2 separate regions of the Homo sapiens genome follow, and region 2 is linked to region 1. Evidence: fine-mapped expression QTL. Tissue or cell type: fibroblasts. Region 1 holds a variant in brackets; the other region holds the start of a gene. All regions are shown on one strand. Distances are from middle to middle.

What was found. PIP is the estimated chance that this variant, and not a neighbour inherited with it, causes the effect.
Region 2: it holds the start of HERC6, and the variant in region 1 is fine-mapped to the expression of HERC6 in fibroblasts (GTEx, PIP above 0.99).

What each region holds. Positions count from the first base shown.
Region 1 is chr4:88,525,579-88,533,686 of GRCh38, forward strand. It overlaps a transcript of HERC3 not described here and the pseudogene LOC100129137. Among named protein-coding and RNA genes, the nearest start is that of PIGY-DT, 5.8 kb to the left of the region's middle. The variant G/T (reference allele first, on the strand shown) is at 4,159.
Region 2 is chr4:88,375,722-88,383,829 of GRCh38, forward strand. It overlaps HERC6 (HECT and RLD domain containing E3 ubiquitin protein ligase family member 6), which reads left to right and starts at 3,131. Exons shown (of 23, transcript NM_017912.4): 1 at 3,131-3,399; 2 at 7,500-7,659. The coding sequence starts at 3,201. RefSeq lists a silencer at 3,354-3,543 and enhancers at 3,554-3,883, 6,960-7,259.

The DNA.
Region 1 (8,108 bases):
CTCCACATAGAGGGTTTGAGGCAGTTCAGTTTACTTTATTTAGGGGAAGAATAGAGAGTAACAGCAAAGTATTGAAAACATCCTCAAATTTATAACACCAGAAATCAACAACCAATATTTAAGGAACATATGAATGTATGACTATCACCATGTGTGTATTAAGTTGCAACATATCAAAGCAATATGTCCCTAAATAGCCCTTAGTAATGAAGAAATACAATTCATTTCTGCCTGTAGTATACTAAGCTAAATGTAGATGATAGGATAGGATCATGGGACTGGAACTGGTCTTTTAAAAGTTAGTCCCTTTTCACTATTCACATGACTGACCTTTCGTGTCACATAGGCCTGTGCACAATAACCTGATGGTTTCTGGGCTCAGATACAATATAGCTGTGTGATCTTGGAGAAGCTACTTAAGTTCTCACCCTCAACCTTCTCACTTGTGAAATACAATAATAATAGTATGTAACTTACAGTGTTTGAACAGACTAAATAAAACAATTCAAGTAAAACAGCACAGGGGCTAACACATTTAAAGAATGTTTAGCAATAAAATTATTTATTATGGTGAAACTAGTAAACATTCTGATGGAAAGGGAAAGCACAAGGTACTTCTGGGACACTCTTTTTAACTGAAATGGAATTTTTCTAATTTCCAATATGGATACTATTGAAACACAATTCTTGGATTATCACACACATGAAGTTAGAAATCTCTAGGCAGAAGAGGGGCTGGACTATGTATTTTAACAGAGCCTGTCAATTCCAAATTTGGGGGCATTGAAATTTGTGAACCTGCAATCCAAAGAAATGAGTCAAAATAAATTTTCCACTAGATGGCATCATTTAGTATTTGAACTAACATTTATCTCTGCTTGATCTTTTCTTTCTGTGATTACAAAGACTTACTTTCATTTTGCCAATTGTTTCTTAGTTTGACAACACTTATTTTTTATTTTTATTTTATTTTCTTGAGACAGATTCTCTCTGTGTCATCCAGGCTGGAGTACAGTGGTGCAGTCGTGACTCACTGCAGCCTTGACCTCCCAGACTCAAGCAATCCTGGCATGTCAGCCTCCAGGTAGCTGGGAATACAGGTGCATGCCACCACACCCAGCTAATTTTTGTATTTTTTGTAGAGATGGTGTTTCATGTTGCCCAGGCTGGTCTGGAACTCCTGAGCTCAAGCAGTCCACCCACCTTGGCCTCCCAAAGTGCTAGGATTACAGGCATAAGCCACTGTGCCCAGCCCAACATTTATTTTAAAAACAAAAATCATAAAAGTCCTATTAATAAATTTTAATGATGAGTTTATTAAAATCAAGTTTCCAATAGATAAATGGACAAAATATTTGAAAAGAAAAATTCGCAAAAAAGAAAATACAGTTGGTCAATAAACATATTAAAAAATTATCCTCAATAGTAAAGTAGTAATGCTAGTTTCAAACATCAAAGGAGTTTTGAAATAACTCTAGACATGAATGTTACCAGCCTTGTTTTGGCCATCTGAAGGATAATCACAAATTCTGTCTGAAGGGCTGAGGACTAGTGCCTGCAAAAGGACCAGAATATCCCAGCATGGGCACAAGTAGCTTGAAATTATGGAAGTATGTCCTGTCTTTCTTTCTTTTCTTTCTTTCTTTCTTACTCTCTCTCACTTTCTCTCTTTCTTTCTTTTTTTTTTTTTTGAGACAGGATCTTGCTCTATCTCCCAGGCTGGAGTGCAGTGGCTCCATCATAGCTGACTGCAGCCTTCACCTTCTGAGCTCAAACAATCCTCCCACCTCAGCTTCCTGAGTAGCTGGGACCATAGGCACACACATGCACCACCACACCTGGCTAATTTCTAAAATTTTTTTTGTAAAGTCAGGGTCTCACTATGTTGCCCAGGCTGGTCTTGAACTCCTGGGCTCAAGTGATCCTCCCGCCTCAGCCTCCCAAAGTCCTGGGATTACAGGCGTGAGCTACCACGCACAGCCCAACTTGCTCTTTTGGTTCTGTGGCTGCTGCAGTTATGGGGATGTACCCGCTGATCCACAACAGTTTGGGAGTGCTCTTCCATAAGCTCCCCTCCCTCATGCCGGGCAATGTGCTTGTCATCGTGGTCTCCATTATCACGGTGGTTGCCTTCCTGGGCTGCATAGGTTCTGTCAAGAAAAACAGGTGCCTGCTTATGTCCTTGTTCATTCTGCTGCCGGTTATCCTCCTTGCTGAGGTGATCTTGGCCATCCTGCACTTTGTTTACGAACGGAAGCTGAATGTATAGGTAGCTGAGGGCCTGACGGACAGCATCTACCATTACCACTGGGACAACAGCACCAAGGCGATGTGGGACTCCATCCAGTCATTTCTGCACTGCTGTGGCGTAAATGGCATGAGTGATTGGTCCAGCGGATAGCAAGCATCTTGCCCCTCAGATCCAAAAGTGAAAGGTTGCTATGCAAAAGCGAGACTGTAGTTTCACGCCAATTTCCTGTATATCAGAATCATCACCATCTGTGTATATGTGCAATCCAGGTGGTGAGGATGTCCTTTGCACTGACCCCAAACAGCCAGATTGATAAAACCAGTCAGGCCCTGGGGGTGTGACCTGCAACTGCCCTGTGCTGGGGAGACTCGTTTCATCTTTGGAAATCCAAAACCATTTATAGCACGAAGTTCTAAATGGTCACCTGCTGGACTGCCTGTCCTCCTCCCAACCCTTTGCTTTTTGGGTCGCTGTCTTATACAGCCAGAAAATAAGGTGTTGGCTAGGGACTTTCCATCTCAGGCAGCAAGACAACCTTTCACCTACTGATGGCAGCAGCCACGTCTCTCAAGGTGGTAACAGTAATACTTGGACATTTTTTTAGACATGAAAGGCCAAGAGAAACTGTGGAACTAATGGCTCAAGATCAAAGAGTGGGCCCAGGATATGAAGTTTTTAACCTTCCCATTGTCAAATTAGTCTCTGGCCTCTGTGTCATGCCCAGTCTGCTCTCCAAAGTCAAGCAAGAGACAAGCTGAAGAGGGTCCTAGGTCCAGGCTCATGGGACCATTGTCACAACCCTGTTTCTCTTTGACGAAGAGTGGTGGCTATAGGAATTACAGAGTGCTCTTTCTCCAAAGGGCAAGGTTTCATTTCCATTTCTTTATTAAGGGCCTCATCAATTTATTCTGTCTTTCCACAAAAAATTATCCAGTGATTTATATCCTGACTTCAACCAGTTACTTAGTTGATAATCACATGCACAAGACTTCCGGTGTTATTTCTCTATCAGCTAAGGTTTTGTTAATTTACTATTTTGCTCTTCGATAAATAAAAGTGATCTTAATTTTTTAAAAAATCAAAGAAGTTTCCATTTCTCATCTATCAAAATAGTAAATATTTTAAAAATGTAATTCTTAATGTTTATGAATAAATGAATAAAGTATTAATTTATTAATTTATTGAATGTCCACTATGTGGCAGGCATGCACCATTATTCAGATTTAAAAATAAAAACTCATAACAACACAGAAAATTATAATAAGTGAAAAACAAGCAGGACACAAAAATGTATGCACAATGATTATATTTTTAAACCCAGAACATCGGCATAGGGGCAAAAAACAAATAACAACCAAAATGTTGGTTGAGTGCTGTGGCTTACACCTGTAATCCTGCACGAGGCAGGAGGATTGCTTGAGGCCAGGAGTTCAAGACCAGACTGAGCAACTTAGCAAGACTCCATTTCTACAAAAAATAAAAAAGTTGGCTATGGCAGTGCCTGCAAGTACTAGCTACTCAGGAGGCTGAGGAAGGAGGATCACTTGGGCCTAGGAGTTCGAGGTTACAGTAAGGTATGATGGCACCACTGCACTCTAGCCTAGGAGACAGAGCAAGACCCTGTCTCTAAAAAATAAAAAAACAGGCCAGGCGCAGTGGCTCATACCCGTAATCCCAGCACTTTGGGAGGCCAAGGCCGGTGGATCACGAGGTCAGGAGTTCAAGACCAGCCTGGCCAAGATGGTGAAACCCCGTCTCTACTAAAAATAGAAAAATTAGCCAGGCGTGGTGGCAGGCGCCAGTAATCCCAGTTACTCGGGAGGCTGAGGCAGGAGAATCGCTTGAAACCAGATGGCAGAGGCTGCAGTGAGCTGAGATCACACCACTGCACTCTAGCCTGGGCAATA[G/T]AGAGAGACTATGTCTCAAAAAAAAAAAAAATGTTGGTTCTCTTTAGCTGGTTGAAATATTGCTGAATTGTTCTTTAAATGTTTCTCTGTTTAAAATTTTTTATTTAATAAAGTAGTTTTAAAATATAAACATTACCAGTTCATAATTGATAAAAGAATACTTTATTTCAAAACTATTGATTCGGTTCAGTAAATATTGATCACTTCCTGTGTTCTCAGATTATATTAGGAGGTGGAAAGGAGGGGTATAAAGGCATATAAGATGCTATTCCAGCTGAGTGTGGTGGCTCACGCCTGTAATCCAGCACTTTGGGAGGCTGAGGCAGGCGGATCACCTGAGGAGTTCAAGACCATCCTGGCCTGGCCAACATGGTGAAACCCTGTCTCTGTTAAAAGTACAAAACATTACCTTGGTGTGGTGGCAGTGCCTATAATCCCAGCTACTCAGGAGGCTGAGGCAAGAGAATTGCTTGAACCAGGGACGTGGAGGTTGCAGTGAGCCAAGATCGTGCCACTGCACTCCAGCCTAGGTGACAGAGTGAGATTCCGTCTCCAAAAGAAAAAAAAAAAAGCTATCCCTATTTTCAAGATGTTTATAATCTTAAGTGGAATAAACAGCACAGGATAAAGTTAAATAGAAAATTCAGGTTTACATATAATGCATTCTTTCGTGTATTCATTCAACATTTGTTGAACTTATACTGTATATGAGGCTCACAAAGAAGGCTGTGCCTAAGGCCTAAGGAGGGCTTAGGGGAGTGTCAGTATAGGTCTTATAGCCGTAAGAAATTATTTACTGAGACCTCAGGGGACACCCATTTTATCTCCTTTCCTCATTTTTTAATCCACAAAAACAATTTTAACTTTGCAAGTAGAATATAAAAGTTTGCTAGGCAGAGATGAGTATGATGAGCCATCAATACTATACTACAGCTCAGGTAAGAGTGAATAATGTGGACTTGAGTAAATATTGTAGGGCTGCATATTAATATACATTTTAAATGGCTTCTGTGTATAACATTTCAAAACTGATCACGAAAATGGCCAGGTTTGAGCTTAAGCCTAAAAGTTCAACATAATTAAGATATCAATATATGGAAAGAGGAATAGTATTTTATTTTTATTCTTTTTGAGACAGAGTCTTGCTCTGTTGCCCAGGCTAGAGTGCAGTGGTGCGATTTCAGCTCACTGCAACCTCTACCTCCCAGGTTCAAGTGATTCTCCTGGCCTCAGCTTCCCAAGCAGCTGGGACCACAGGTGTGTACCACCACATCACGCCTGGCTAATTTTTTTGTATTTTTAATGGAGATGGGGTTTTGCCATGTTGGGCAGGCTGGTCTTGAACTCCTGGCCTCAGGCGATCTGCCCTCCTCAGCCTCCCAAAGTGCTGGGATTATAGGCGTGACCCACCATGCCTGGCAGGAATAGTATTTTTAAAAATTTTTTAAATTTTTAAAATTTAAAATTTTTTTAAAATTTTTTAATTTAAATTAAATTGTTGTTGTGCTATGTTGCCCAGGTTAGTTGAACTGGCCTCAAGCTGTCCTCCCCCCTCAGCCTCCCAGAGTTCTGGGATTACAGGCATGAGCCACCGTGCACAGCCAATAGTATTTCTTAATGGGAGTCATCACCACTATTTTGTTCTTTAAAATATCCTATTCATACATATTTTGAAATATAAACTTTAAAAATAAGCGTTCACTAAAACTATAAATATATCACAAGAAAATATCCAGATAAGCAACTCCACATGATATTAATTTGTCTATTTAGAACAAATGAAATCAATAAAAAATTTGCAGTTCTTTCCAACTCTGCTTGAAATCTGTGGCAGCTGTTGCTCTCTCAACCTCCATCTGAAGATGAGCTGTTGCTCTCTCAACCCTCCTATTTGAAGAAGTTGGAAAACGAACAAGTACATTTTCCAGACTCCTTTATAGATAGGGTTCTGGCTATGAAATAGACTCTGCCAGCTAGATACACACACGTGAAATTTGAAAGGGAGGCAGAGATGAGCTTCCTGCAGCAGGGAGAGTTGACACGCAGGTTCTGACAGACACAGGATTTGCATGGGTTAGATGAATGCTGCACTCTCTAGATGCAAGGGGCAGTGTCTTCTTAGCACAGGGCAGCTGTGGCAGCCACAGCAGTGGTTGCAGTAACAGTTTCTTCTGGGTCACAGCTATTAGAGCATTAGCTTAACACCAAAACTCCAGAAGCAGCCCCCTGTTTCTGCTTTTCCAGCCATTTTAATGAATTTATAAACACATAGTTCTGTATATTAAATTCCTATATACTGGAAATTCCTAGAACAATTTCTTTTTCCTACACTGAACCCTGACTGGTCAACTACCCCAGAGTGTAGATGTGATCATAAAATATGTAAATCACTTAGAATAGTGATTAATATATAGTAAAGAATAGTGGCCTGAAACACTATATAGATATCTATATAGATATATTTATAAAACAGGAGATTTATTACAGGAATTGACTTACACAATTACGGAGGCCTGGAAGTCCCATAATCTGCCCTCTGCAAGCTGGAAAACCAGCGGGAGAAAGCTGGTGATATAACTCAGTCCAAGTCCAAAGGCCTGAGAACCACGGGAGCCAACAGTGTAGGTCCAGATCAGAGCTCAAAGGCTCTAGAACCCAGCACCAGTATCTGAGGGCAGGGGAGTATATATGGCTGTCCCAGCTCAAATGAGAAGCAAATGCACCCTTCCTCCACCTTTTTATTCTATTCAGGCTCTCATAGGATTGGATGATGTCCATTCACATAAGTGAGTGCAGATCTTCTTTACTCAACCTATAAATTAAAATCCTAATCTCTTCCAGAAACACCCTCACAGATACAAACACAAATAATGTGTTACCAGCTAACTAGGCATCCCTCAGCTCAGTCAAGATGTCACATAAAACTAACCATCACATTGGCCCATTATAATAGAAAATAAAAGGTCCTGATCAGAATTACTAAAAAGAATGAAGAGTAGAAGTACTAACAAGTACTCAGGAAAACAATCATCCTCTGGACGTAGAGTTGTAATATTTAGGAAAACAATGTGGGGAATTTTCTTTTTGCAAGGGTTCAAGGGAGAGCTTGAGGAAGAGGCAAGATAACTTACCTCTTGTACTAATCCCATATGTATTAGAGTTCTCTAGAGGGACAGAACTAATAGGATAGATGAATATACGAAACGGACTTTATTAAGGAGAATTGACTCACACGGTCACCAGGTGAAGTCCCACAGCAGGCCATCTGCAAGCTGAAGAGCAAGGAAGCCAGTCTGAGTCCCAAAACCTCAAAAGTAGGGAAGCCGACAGCGCAGCCTTCAGCCTGTGGCCGAAGGCCGGAGAATCCCTGGCGATCCACTGATGTATGTCCAAGAGTCCAAAAGCTGAAGAATTTGGGGCCTGATGTTTGAGGGCAGGAAGCATCCAGCATGGGAGAAAGATGAAGGCCAGAAAACTCAGCAGGTCTGCTCATTCCACCTTCTTCTGCCTGCTTTATTCTGCCCACGCTGGCAGGTGATTGGATGGTGCCCACCCACATTGAGGATGAGTCTGCGTCTCCCAGTCCACTGACTGAAATGTTAATCTCCTTTGGCAACACCCTCACAGACACACCCAGGAACAATACTCTGTATCCTTCAATCCAATCAAGTTGACACATTATTAACCATCACACCATGGAAAATTCTGATTTTATAAATAAAATTGAAGGGATAAAAGGAGGCAAAACGATGTCACCTGAGACCTATGTGAGTAATTTGATGCTACTCATACTACTATCCCCTGCCCTTTCTCAAGGTTTTCCTTGTCATGATGCAGACTAGCTTGGAAGGGGACCGGTGAGAAACAGCATGCCAAAAGCCTTTGTAATTTCTCTTTCACATCTGGCTGTTCACCATTTCTTACAATTTGTTTCTTCATAAGTCTTCTGG
Region 2 (8,108 bases), 150 kb before region 1:
GTTCAATAGCTCAGTAGAATGACTATAGGTACATTTCAAAACCACTAGCCAATAATAATTTGAATGTTCCTTTTTTTTTTTTTTTTTTTTTTGAGATAGGGTCTGGCTCTGTCGCCCAGGCTGGAGTGCAGTGGCACGATCTGGGCTCACTGCACCTTCCACCTCCCAGGCTCCGGGCTCAAGCAATCCTCCCACCTCAGCCTCCCACGTAGCTGGGACTACAGGTATGTGCCACTGCACCCAGCTATTTTTTGTAAAGATGGGGTTTCACCATGTTGCCCAGGCTGGTCTCCAACTCCTGAGCTCAAGCGATCCTCCCATCTCGGCCTCCTAAAGTGCTAGGATTATAGGCATGAGCCACTGTGCCTAGCCCAAGATAAATTATTTAAGGCGATAGATATCCCAATTTGATAATGTGTCAAATTATCATATGTACCCCCAAAACATGTGCATCTATTATGTATCAATAAAAGATTTTTTAGGCCAAGAGTGGTGGCTCACGCCTGTAATCCCAGCACTTTGGGAGGCTGAGGCAGGCGGATCACTTGAGGTTAGAAGTTCGAGATCAGCCTGGCCAACATGGTGAAACCCTATCTCTACGAAAAATACAAAAATTAGCCAGGTGTGATAGTGCCCGCCTGTAATCTGAGCTGTTCAGGAGGCTGAGGCAGGAGAATCGCTTGAATCGGGGAGGTGGAGGTTGCAGTGAGCTGAGATCGTGCCACTACACTCCAGCCTGGGTGGCAAAGCGAGACTCTGTCTCAAAAAAAAATTTTTTTTTAAAGAAATAACTTAATTTGAGGGCTCAGTATCTTATGGTAATAATACCAAACTCCTACATTTTGTGCTTGAGAAAAGAAATAAACATTAAGAAATTACTATTCAGAAAAAGGTTATATTTGGTATACAGCAAAACAGAACCAGAAATACTAATACTATCCACTGACTCACTACTCATCAATCCAATTGTCCGACATACCCTTATTAGCATCTACCAAGTTCCAGGTACTCTTGAGGTAGAAAAATAAAGAACATTTGTTCTTCTCTTTAAAGAACTTGAAACATGGTCATGAAGAGTGGTGAATTGAAATTACATAAATAGGTTCTGTAATAGTTTCTTTTAAAAAAAAATCAATAATGCTGATGATGGCTAACATTATCAAAGTTACCAAATCTAAAAACCAGTGCTCAGCGGGACATGGTGGCCTATAATCACAGCACTTTGGAAGGCTGAGGTAGGCAGATCATCTGAGGTCAGGAGTTCAAGACCAGCCTGGGCAACATGATGAAACCCCATCTCTTCAAAAAATACAAAAGTTAGCTGGGCGTAGTGGCACGTGCCTGTAGTCCCGCTACTTGGGAGGCTAAGGCGGGAGGATTGCTTGAACCTGGGAGGCGGAGGTTGCTGTGAGTTGAGATCACGCCATTGCACTCCAGCCTGGGCATCAAGAGCGGAAACTCTATCTCAAACAAACAAACAAATAAATAAATAAAAATCAGTGCTCAATCCTTACCTTGCTCCACAAGAAATTGACAGAGTTGATCCTTCCTTTATTCGTTACTTGCTCTGTCTATAACTCCTCCTCCTGGTTTTCCTCCTATGATCAGTCCTCTAGCCTCTGCTATACTGTCACCACATTCACCCCCTGGGTGTTCTCATTCAGCCATCTGGCTTTAAGCATCACCTCTACACTGATGGCTCCCAATTTTCTGACTACACCCAAGCTTCTCTCTACAACTCCAAAACAGTTTATCCTATTGCCTTCTTGATTAACAAGCATCTTACAGTTATCATTACCAATCTGTATTCCAGACACACATAGCTTAAACCTGCACCTTCCTCAGGGTTTCCCAGTCCAGTAGAGTTTACCTTGGAGTAACCCCTAAAGCCAACCCTGGAGTAATCCCTAATCCCTTTTCTTCTTTCCCCCCAATTTCTAATCCATCATCAAATCTGTGGACTCTTACTTTCAAAACATGTCTTGAATCTAATAACTTCTCCTCTCTTCCCTTCTAGGATATCACCTGACCTGAACTCTGAAGTAGTCTCTGCTAACTGGCTTTCTGCTTCCATTTTTGTCCTATTATTTTTCACACAGCAGCCAGATGAATCTTTAAAAACTGAAGTCAGATCATGGCTCTTCTCTATTCAAAACCTTCCAACTGCTTCTTTTCATCCTCTGCCCTCAGGTGTGATCACGACTCATTCCCTCATTTCCCATGTCCCCTCAGCTCTCTGCACAAATATCACTTCATCAGAGAGATCTTCCCTAATATCATCTCAAATACCAGTGCCTTCCGCCTCCACCCTCTGGTTCCTGTTGTATTTTTCGTTGCCCCTTGATATTACACTATGTGTTTATCTGTTTATGTTCTCTTTCCCTCAGGAGAATGTAAACGCATCAAGAGGATCTTGTCTTTCACTAATTGTATTTTCAGGCGGGGCCCAGAGGCTCACGCCTGTAATCCCTGCACTTTGGAAAGCTGAGGGGTGGATCACTTGAGGTCAGGAGTTCGAGACCAGCCTGGCCAACATGGTGAAACCCCATCTTTACTAAAAATACAAAAATTAAGTCGGGCGTCGTGGCGCATGCCTGTAATCCCACCTACTCGGGAGGCCGAGGCAAGAGAATCAGCTTGAACCCGTGAGGTGGAGGTTGCAGTGAGCCGAGATGGTGCCACTGCACTCCAGCCTGAGCAGCAGAGCGACACTCCATCTCAAACAAACAAACAAACAAACAAACAAAAAACAAACATATTTTCAATGCCAAAAAAGGTCTGGAATGAGGTGGGCACTCAGATGCTTTATTAACCACTCTAGGTATTATTCTAACACTTTATGTGCCTATTAAATTATCCCGACATATTAGATTTGCTGAATTGCAGTCCATATTTCGTAGATATGATAGCTGAAGCACGGAATCATTAGGTAACTTGCCCAAAGTGGCATTCACGACTCATAAATGGCTTAGGATGTAAACTCAGTTTTATTCCCTGGGACGCCCTCTCTGCTCTTCAGCACTTGAAGTTCAGGCAGCGAGAGTTGACATGGGGCCAGGGCTGCGCCCCTGGGGCGGGTTGAAGACAGGGTGAGTCTCTTGATATTCAGGAAATCATCGCGCACCCAGTCACCAGCGTTCGGGAGCCTGTCGCAGCGGGACCGACGGAATCCGGAGCAGGCGACAGGGCGCAGAAGCGGGATGTACTTCTGTTGGGGCGCCGACTCCAGGGAGCTGCAGCGCCGGAGGACGGCGGGCAGCCCCGGGGCTGAGCTACTGCAGGCGGCCAGCGGGGAGCGCCACTCTCTGCTGCTGCTGACCAACCACAGGGTCCTCTCGTGCGGAGACAACAGCAGGGGTCAGCTGGGCCGCAGGGGCGCGCAGCGCGGGGAGCTGCCAGGTGAGCGGGGGGCCCCAGGTGCAGGGTGTGAGGACCCCAGTACATGGGCGCGGGGGCTTGGGTACCGGGCGCAGGGAACCGGGTGCGGAGCGCTGGGACCCGGGTGAGGGGCGCGGGGGCCCAGGTGCAGGGAGCGGCTCAGATGCTGGGCGCCGCGGGCCAGGCAGGGAGGGGTGCTGGGAGCCTTGGATTCCTCGGGGCCCGAAGAGCCACAGGAACCAGGAAAATGGTGCCCTGTGCTACCGAAGAGCAACTTCCTCAGTTTCGTTTTCCCAACGCCCCTCGGATTTGTTTCGGTTTCCAATTCAAGTTCAAAGCGAAACTGAGAGCCGAAACTAACCTGGTCAGCGCTGCTCTGGAAAGAGATGTGGTCCCTCCGGCTTGCCTTGCAGATAAATCCTCGCCTGCGCGGTTCTACCTGGAGAAGGCAGCCTGACCTTACAAACGTGGTTTGTGGGTCAGACACCTGTATCTCCCTTAGAAATACACTGGGGCATTAAAAAATATATATATATAAAAATATATATATAAAATATATAAATATATATAATATATAAATATATACAAATATATAATATATAAATATATAATATATAAATATATATAATATATAAATATATAAATATATAACATATAAATATATATAATATATAAATATATATATAACATATAAATATATATAATATATAAATATATATATAACATATAAATATATATAATATATAAATATATATATAGCATATAAATATATATAATATATAAATATATATATAATATATAAATATATATAATATATAAATATATATAATATATAAATATATATATAATATATAAATATATATAATATATAAATATATATAATATATAAATATATATATAATATATAAATATATATAATATATAAATATATATAATATATAAATATATATATAATATATAAATATATATAATATATAAATATATATAATATATAAATATATATATAATATATAAATATATATAATATATAAATATATATAATATATAAATATATATAATATATAAATATATATATAATATATAAATATATATATAATATAAATATATATATAATATATAAATATATAATATATAAATATATATAATATATAAATATATAATATATAAATATATATAATATATAAATATATAATATATAAATATATATATAATATATAAATATATATATAATATATAAATATATATATAATATAAATATATATATAATATATAAATATATATATATAATATATAAATATATATATATAATATATAAATATATATATATACACATAATAGGCCGGACGCGGTGGCTTACGCCTGTGATCCCAGCACTTTGGGAGGCCGAGGCGGGCGGAGCACGAGGTCAGGAAATCGAGACCACCCTGGCCAATATGATGAAACCCCATCTCTACTAAAATACAAAAAATAAACTGGGCGTGGTGGCGGGCGCCTGTAGTCCCAGCTACTTGGGAGGCTGAGGCAGGGGAATCGCTTGAACCCGGGAGGCAGAGGTTGCAGTGAGCCGAAATCGCGACACTGCACTCCAGCCTGGCAACAGAGCAAGACTCTGTCTCAAAAAACATAATAATAATAAATATATATATTATATATGTGAGATAATACAATAATCGTTATGGATTATTGTAGAAATACGAGAAAGCAATCACCGTAGCTCCAACACCCAAAGATAACTCCTAACATTTTGATGCATTTTCTCCTTGTCTACTTTTTTCTATGTACATATTTAATCTTTATAAAAATCATGTCATTATAGATTTGTATATGCAGTATTTATGCAACTCTGTACATTGTGTTTTCATCAAGCATAATCTTATGAACATATTACCCTTTCATTTTGTATGTTTTGAAAATATGTTTTAAATTGCTGCATAACATTCTAAACTCTGAGAGTACCATAATTATTCTCTTTTTGTGGAAATTAGATTGTTTCCCACTAGGGGCTTTTATAAATAATACTGATTGATATTCTCGTAAGCAAATATTTGACTACATTTTTGATGACCTGCTGAGAATAGTTTCAAAAGGTGTGTGGAGGAGGAAAATTTTTCCTCTACCCTCTTAGGTTCAGCGGCTGGGTCCTGCAAACTTAACTGACAAAAGACAGATTGACAGGAGAAAAAGCATACAATTTTATTAATCTTTTACATATAGGGGAATTTACATGCGTGGGAATTTACAGAATAGAAGTGAAACTCAAGTGCTTCGACTTAGGAGCTTGTGTACCATGTTTAACAAAGAAAAGGGGGTTTGGACTTTAAAGGATGATGAACTCAGGGAAAGTGACTAGAAAATATATGGGAAAATCTAATGGAAGATAAGGGTTATTTTAATTGACTTGTTTATGCAGGCTCACCTCAGTGCCAAGTCTTCATCTTAGGTGACCCTTCTCTTCTTTTTTTTTTTTTTTTTTTTTTGAGATGGGGTTTTGCCCTGTCACCAGGCTGTAGTGCAATGGCACTATCTCGGCTCACTGCAACCTCCGCCTCCCCAGTTCAAACGGTTCTTCTGCCTCAGCCTCCCAAGTAGCAGGGATTACAGGCACTCACCACCATGCCCAGCTAATTTTTATATTTTTAGTAGAGACGGGGTTTCACTATGTTGGTCAGGCTGGTCTCAAACTCCTGACCTCGTGATCCACCCGCCTCGGCCTCCCAAAGTGCTGGGATTACAGTTATGAGCCACTGCGCCCGGCTGACCCTTTTCTTGGTGCCAGAGATGGGAGCTTCTCACAAAAGGATATTTATGACCTACTTTTAGGTAGATAAGAAGAGAGCAGAGACCTCTTCCTGCATCTGTTGATTCTCAATTGCCTTCAGCTCAAATTCTTAAAGTAGCATGTTTTCAGGTCTTATCACCCTCATTTGGAAATGAAGGGCAACATGATACTTAACCCCAAATTGTTCTCTAGAAAAATGGTACCAATTTCTATCTTTGTGAGTGCATGAATCTTTGGGAAATTTTAACCTTGCATAAATTGACAGTAAATAGTTGAAAAAGATAAGATTACAAAGATAAAAGGAAAAACAAAATCTTAAATGTTGCAAAAACTTTACTGGTATGATGTTCTCAACTCCAAACCTCTAATAATTCAGAGACAGACACCTTGGGAAAGCAGTTTAGGTTGGCTTGTAGGGAAATGTGATCCGGTTTTCATTTGTGGGCATATTTAGGGCCTCCATAGGGGCATATTTTTCACTTTTCATTGTAAGAGGATCCAGCATCTGCCTCTCACACTCATGAGGTAGGCTCCCTTCCAATTTCCTTCTGAGCAAGGGATTCACTGCTTTCAGTGTTTAGGGTGGGAAGACAGAATAGCAAAATGGAGGAGATCCCAACTTTTTTCTGGGTCTCTTTATTTTGCTAGGTTTTGCTAGAGAAACATTTGGTCATGTGTCATAGTCCCTAGAAGTTACCCCCTCCGTGATGCCTACTCCTTTAAATAACAGCCATTAAAAGATAGACTTGGGTAATTGAATGTTTTTAAGAGTCAATTTGAACATTCAGCAGTTCATGAATTGAGCAGCACCAGACCTCAAGCAGTTGGGCTCCACTAAGGGAGGTGCAAGGAGATGCCAGGGGGAACCTTTGATAACGTGTTCCAGGAAGCAAGACAAAGAAAATACTTGATTGGTTAAAGTGGAAAGTCCCTTGTTTGAAGTAGTCAGCAGTTTCTGGTTGGTAAAGTCTCTAGTTAGATGTTAGTTGGTGGTTTCTGATTGGTTAACCTTAAGTTTCATTTTCCTAGGCTATGATCAATCACTCTGAGTTGGGTTTTGGTTTGCTTAGGTAGGAACCCAAGGTGCTGGAGCCATCTCAACCTGATAGTCTCCCTGTTGATTATTTTAACAGAGCTGTATCCTATAAAGACAGGGTAACATACATTGAATTTACTTCCTTCAGACATTTAGAATGGACTTAAGGTCTTGATTCAAAAGACCATTGGAGGAGACAAGAAATCTGGATGATCCTTCTTTTTGAAGAAAAGTGCTGTCTTAAACTTGTGTTAAATTAATAATCTGCAGTGGTGGTTGGGGGGTGTTTTGTTTTGTTTCCCAAAGAACCAATTCAGGCATTGGAAACCCTAATTGTTGATCTCGTGAGCTGCGGGAAGGAGCACTCCCTGGCTGTGTGCCACAAAGGAAGGGTCTTCGCATGGGGAGCTGGTTCTGAAGGGCAGCTGGGGATTGGAGAATTCAAGGAAATAAGTTTCACACCTAAGTAAGTGTTTCAACCCACTCCTTCATTTATTCAATATATATAGTACCATGTGCCAGGCACTGTGCAAGATGCCAGGATACAAAGACGACTATGACAGGCCAGCTGCAGTGGTTCATGTCTGTAATCCCAACACTTTGGAAGGCTAAGGTGGGCAGATCACTTGAGGTCAGGAATTTGAGACCAGCCTGGTCAACATGGCGAAAGCCCCTCTCTACAAAAAAGACACAAGAAAATTAGCCGGGCATGGTGTCAGGCACCCGCAATCCCAACTACTCAGGAGGCTGAAGCGGGAGAATCGCTTGAACCTGGGAGGCAGAGGTTGCAGTGGTGCTGGGACAGCGCCACTGCACTCCAGCCTGGGCAACAGAGGGAGACTCAGTCTCAAAAAAAAAAAAAAAAAAAAAAAAAAAAAAGACTATGACAAACACAGTTCCTAACCTGAAGGACTA